Linked DNA regions of Homo sapiens: region 1 is linked to region 2. The links come from fine-mapping of genetic effects on gene expression. A gene starts in region 2. The other region holds a variant in brackets. All regions are shown on one strand. Distances are between the middles of the regions. Region 1 overlaps ORMDL2 (ORMDL sphingolipid biosynthesis regulator 2). Region 2 holds the start of BLOC1S1 (biogenesis of lysosomal organelles complex 1 subunit 1).

What was found.
Region 1: its variant is fine-mapped to the expression of BLOC1S1 in substantia nigra (GTEx, PIP 0.90).

Annotation. Positions count from the first base shown.
Region 1 is chr12:55,818,114-55,821,137 of GRCh38, forward strand. ORMDL2 (ORMDL sphingolipid biosynthesis regulator 2) reads left to right here. Exons shown (of 4, transcript NM_014182.5): 2 at 886-1,060; 3 at 1,229-1,380; 4 at 2,147-3,024. The coding sequence starts at 887. The coding sequence ends at 2,282. DNAJC14 (DnaJ heat shock protein family (Hsp40) member C14) reads right to left here. Exons shown (of 7, transcript NM_032364.6): 7 at 2,872-3,024. Among named protein-coding and RNA genes, the nearest start is that of ORMDL2, 1.6 kb to the left of the region's middle. The variant G/T (reference allele first, on the strand shown) is at 1,400.
Region 2 is chr12:55,714,487-55,716,986 of GRCh38, forward strand. BLOC1S1 (biogenesis of lysosomal organelles complex 1 subunit 1) reads left to right here and starts at 1,560. Exons shown (of 4, transcript NM_001487.4): 1 at 1,560-1,710; 2 at 2,447-2,500. The coding sequence starts at 1,566. It overlaps BLOC1S1-RDH5 (BLOC1S1-RDH5 readthrough), which reads left to right and starts at 1,548. Exons shown (of 6, transcript NR_037658.1): 1 at 1,548-1,710; 2 at 2,447-2,500. It also overlaps a transcript of ITGA7 not described here. RefSeq lists enhancers at 1,605-1,744, 2,025-2,264.

The sequences.
Region 1 (3,024 bases), 100 kb after region 2:
TAGGAGCTGCAAAGACTGTAAGGGTTGCTGAGGAAAAATGGTGGGAGGCGAAAGGGGCGCCGAGGGAGTGGTGACCTAAATACTGAGAGGGGAGCGCTGAAGGGAGCCCTGAAAAAACCGATGAACATGAGGAGGAAGCTGGGAGGGGCATGGGGCGGGCTTAAGGAACTGGCGGTGGGGCTGGGGCGGGCAAGAGCCGCTTCCTAACCAGACATCATCAGCTTTAGAGCTACCACAATTTTAAAGATCCGAGTTCAGATAATCACTGCTGCCCCTGGAGTCAGAGCCAAGGCTCCACCTTTCGAGGTATTGAGCTCAGGTCCCTTCCTAACCCAGTCCAGAAGCCGTGGGCAAGTTGTTGTCGTGCCCCACGCTTGAGAGAAGTAATGGGGATGCAGACTGTTTACATGCCACGGAGGTGAGAGAGAGGGTGGACAAGCCCCAGAGAACAAAGTGGGGACCAGAGTGAGCTTTACTCTGTCATCCCTTCTTAGTGGTTCTTTGATGATTCCATGACTTTCGCCTGGAATTCTGGGTGTACGTGACCTCTTCATGGTTATTAACTTCTTCAGCAAAGTCAGATACTCCTATTTCCCTTGCTCCCTGAAGTGAGTGCCCCAAGCCTACACATACACCTTCATGTTACAGTTGACGTGTAAAGATCAGAGCAATAATGACTATGTCTCTGAAATGTAGTGAGGACTCTTCTTGTCTTTTAAAGTTTTCCCCAAGTCTTCAGTTTTTATTTTCTGCGTGATGGGTAAGTTCTTCATTCCCAATAGAGTTCAGGGGATTGGGGCTATCTGAGAGACAACTGGGAGATAGCTCAAGAGGGGTTGAGAAAAAACTGAGCTGGACTCCTGCCTGATCCCCCATTACGGCTAGGATGAATGTGGGGGTGGCACACAGCGAAGTAAACCCCAACACCCGAGTGATGAATAGCCGAGGCATCTGGCTGGCCTACATCATCTTGGTAGGATTGCTGCATATGGTTCTACTCAGCATCCCCTTCTTCAGCATTCCTGTTGTCTGGACCCTGACCAACGTCATCCATAACCTGGTGAGCACTAAACCACGCCCTTGTACCCACCCCAGGGTTTCCCAACCAAAAGCAAAATAAAATCACCAATTGTTTGGGGATTTATGTGTTCCTTTTGGGATCTTAACATAATTCTTTGACTGAAAAACTACTTTCTGCCCCTCACACTGCCACCTTCCCTGTTCCCAGGCTACGTATGTCTTCCTTCATACGGTGAAAGGGACACCCTTTGAGACTCCTGACCAAGGAAAGGCTCGGCTACTGACACACTGGGAGCAAATGGACTATGGGCTCCAGTTTACCTCTTCCCGCAAGTTCCTCAGCATCTCTCCTATTGTGCTGTGAGTCTATGGGGGAAAT[G/T]AGATATGCTGGGTTAGAAAGAGCTCCAAGAGCCAGGTAGAAAGGCCCATAGGGAAGCTGTTAAAAAGCAGACTTCTCATCTAAAACCCTTTGAAGATATTATGGTATACTAGTTCTAAGCCTACAGAGAGCAGTAAAATGTAGATTACAGTCAATACTGTAATCAAGCATTCCTTGCTGCCTCCTTGGTAGTAAGGAAATGAAGGGACTGAGAAAAGATAAGTGCCAAATAAAACCAAATGATTTTACACTGCCAAAAGAAGTAAATAAAGGCAGAACTGATATTAATCTTCAAAAACACTGTAGGGAGTGGAAGCAAAGAGGACTGTAACAGTCATACAGACTGAAATAGCTTGAGCCGTCATTTGCCATGTCATTAACAATTAACAGATACTGACTTACAGTCTCCAGTTAAGGGTGCTATCTCCTGAACCCCAAAGTAAATGCTGTTGATATAGCTGGAATAGTTTTAGATAATCTAGAACTATATACAGTAAAACTGGTCATTTAAAATAGAAGAGAAAGAGCAGGGCACTGTGGTGCATGCCTGGAGTCCCAGCTACTTGGGAGGCTATGGCAGAAGGATTGTTTGAGCCCAGGAGTTTGAGGTTGTACTGCACGTATCACACTTATGAATAGCCACTGCACTCCAACCTGGGAAACATGGTGAGAACTGTCTCTTAAAAAAAAAAAAGAATATGGATAGAGAAGGTCAACCTCACTCACCCTATTTTTTTCTCTCCCCAGCTATCTCCTGGCCAGCTTCTATACCAAGTATGATGCTGCGCACTTCCTCATCAACACAGCCTCATTGCTAAGTGTACTGCTGCCGAAGTTGCCCCAGTTCCATGGGGTTCGTGTCTTTGGCATCAACAAATACTGAGGGATGGGTTTTGGGACAGCTCCATGGGCATGGGGAAGGCACTGAAACAGAGGACTATAAAACATCCTTCTCTTATTCTCCATACTGTCTTCTACACCTTTAAAGCCTGAGAACTATACAACCTTTCCCAGACTCCCAAGAAGAGAAGAGATTGGCAAATGGGGCTCCTGGGCCCAGTCCTGCTAGTGGCAAGTTTCTTTGAATCAGGAAGGCAGGTGAGGTAAGGGCCAAATCACTCTCCTCCATAGCAGGAAGCCATTTGGGCAGCTTCTTTGGTGATTACATCTTTCCATATCTTTTACACTTACCACCTTCCAGCTCTGTTTTGCTGTGTATTTTTCTTACAATAATTTTTTTCAGCTATAGCTGCAGTTTAATCAGGATGGGTAGAGAGCTGTCCTCATAAGGCTGGGGGTGGGAAGATGGAATACTGACCTAATGTATAAAACTTAAAACAATTCTCCAATCCCCTCTCCTTTGGTCCAGTAGGAGGTGCCCTTCACTCTAAGCTTAACACTTAGTAGGGAAGAGATTCTCAAATGAGAAAAAGGGCTCCGGCTATATGGGCAACAAAGAGGGAAGATACAGGTTGCCAGTTATACATTTATAGAAAGATAATCCCCTGGCTTTAAATAGTCATGTACATACAAATATGAACAAACTTAAAAAAAAAATACAAACCCTTGGATCACATGGGGGCTTCTGGGAACCCCCGTATTCTTCCCCCTCACCCAAGGGCAGT
Region 2 (2,500 bases):
CAGCCTGGGCGACAGAGCGAGACTCCGTCTCAAAAAAAAAAATACAAAAATTAGTCAGGTGTGGTGGCACATGCCTGTAATCCCAGCTACTCAGGAGGCTGAGGCAGGAGAATCGCTTGAACCTGGGAGGTGGAGGTTGCAGTCAGCTGAGATCATGCCACTGCACTCCAGCCTAGGCGACAGAGCGAGACTCTGTCTCAAAAATAATAATAATTTTATATATACATATATACATATACATACATATATACACATATATACGTATACATACATATATACACATATATACGTATACATACATATATACATACATATATATAGTGATGTTTGGTCTTCACTCCTTAGATTCTATTTAATTAGTCTGGAATCAAGGCTTTTTTTTTTTTTTTTTTGAGACAGAGTCCCACTCTGTCGCCCAGGCTGGAGTTCAGTGGCGTGATCTCGGCTCACTGCAACCTCTGCCTCCCAGGTTCAAGCGATTCTCCTGCCTCAGGCTCCTGAGTAGCTGGGATTACAGGCTTGTGCCACTACGCCTGGCTAAATTTTGTATTTTTAGTAGATACAAGGTTTCACCATGTTGGTCAGCCTGGTCTCGAACTCCTGACCTCGTGATCCGCCCGCCTCGGCCTCCCAAAGTGCTGGGATTACGGGCGTGAGCCACCGCACCCGGCTAATCACGGCATTTTTATAAGCCTTGTGATTTCTGTGATTCTAATGTTTAGATTCTAATGCTTAGCCAGGGTTGAGAACCACCGATTTAATCCAATCCCTTCTCCTAGTTTTACTAAAGAGAAAACTATAACCTAGAATGGTGAGCAACTTGCCCAAAGTCACCCAACATGTTAGTGCAAGGTGCACCGAGAGAGATTGTACCAGTAGCAAGAATATGCTCATGATGTTTATAATTGTTCTCGCTGGAGTTAATCCCGGAAGCATTTCTTTTTAGTTCACAGAGGCCTTATATAAATTACTTTTTACTTTGGCACAGCACTTACGCTTCTGCTAACACTGAAATGGGTTCGCATTCCTGACCACAAAAGGACAGAGATGAAATTCTACATTCACACAGCCCGCCAAGTTAGCCAAGCTCCCTAGGAGGCTGTCTGAAGTGCCTAAAATGCTTCTCTACAATGATCACCCAGAGCTGAGAGACTTCAGTGGGGTAGTGAGAAGAAAGAGGGTTGGGAGAGACAGGAAAGCATCCTCTCCTTGAGGGAAGGAACTGGGAATCAACTGAGAACCAGCTAGCACTGCCAGGAGGTGAGGAGAGGGAAGGAGAATAATTTAAATGAGGCCAGGGAGCTTCTGCTCCCTCAATTAAACGGTGATAGACGGCCTGACACCACCAGCCCTCGAAGCCTGAGATCCACAGGAAATGTTAAAAACTGGCTTGGCAATATAAGTATTAGAAAATACTTCTTCCAACACTCACCAAAAACTAAGCTCCCAATAAAGAACACTTCACCTGCCCTCCGCAACCCTCTACCTCTCTTCCCCGCCAAGATCTTCACCCAAGGTCTCAAGAGGGCGGTTCCCAACCTCACGTGACACAGCGGTCACGTGACATGGCCCCGGGGAGCCGAGGTGAGCGTTCCAGCTTCCGGAGCCGGAGGGGGCCCGGCGTACCCAGCCCCCAGCCCGACGTGACCATGCTGTCCCGCCTCCTAAAAGAACACCAGGCCAAGCAGAATGAACGCAAGGAGCTGCAGGGTGAGCCAAATATCCTGTCGGCCGTTTTCTCTTCGGCCGCGGCCTAGCTTCAGCCCGGAGCCTGGATCTCGAGTAACTAACCATATCCAGGGAAAGACGCCAGCTAGCGGGCAACGGGCATGGGGGAGAGGGAATTTCAGAGAGGCTTTTTTTGAAACTCCTTTCCCTTGCCAACTGGCTCCGGTCCCTTGGGCAATACTCCGGTCCCCTCGGCAACGCCCCCAATCCCCGACCTGCCGCACCTTAGCCCCGCCCCTGCCCCGGAGCGCCCTGCCTATTGGCCCTGGGAGCCTCTCGTCCTGGCGGCGGGAAGGAGCGACTCTGGAGGGAGGAGGGTGTGGGGAACCCCCCAGAGATGGGCTTCTTGGAGGCCTGAAACCACCGGAACGGAGGTGGGGCACTTGTTTCCTGAGTCCGGGCTGGAAATCTCGGAGTTACCGATTCTGCGGCCGAGTAGTGGAGAAAGAGTGCCTGGGAGTCAGGAGTCCTGGGCGCTGCCGCTGACTTCCTGGCGTCCCTGAGTGAGTCCATTTCCCTCCCAGGGTACCAGTTTCCTCATCTCTAAAATGAAAGAGGTTGCGCTATGTTTTGCAAGGTCCTTTTCAGCTCCGGCATTCAGAGATTAGTTAAGAAATTTCGGCAACTAGCAGAATAGTAATGGATGGGTAGGGAACCTTTAACACTACCCCTCAAAAAACCAAGTCTCCCCTCCAATTCCTTTTCCCCCTCTCCCCAGAAAAGAGGAGGCGAGAGGCTATCACTGCAGCGACCTGCCTGACAGAAGCTTTGG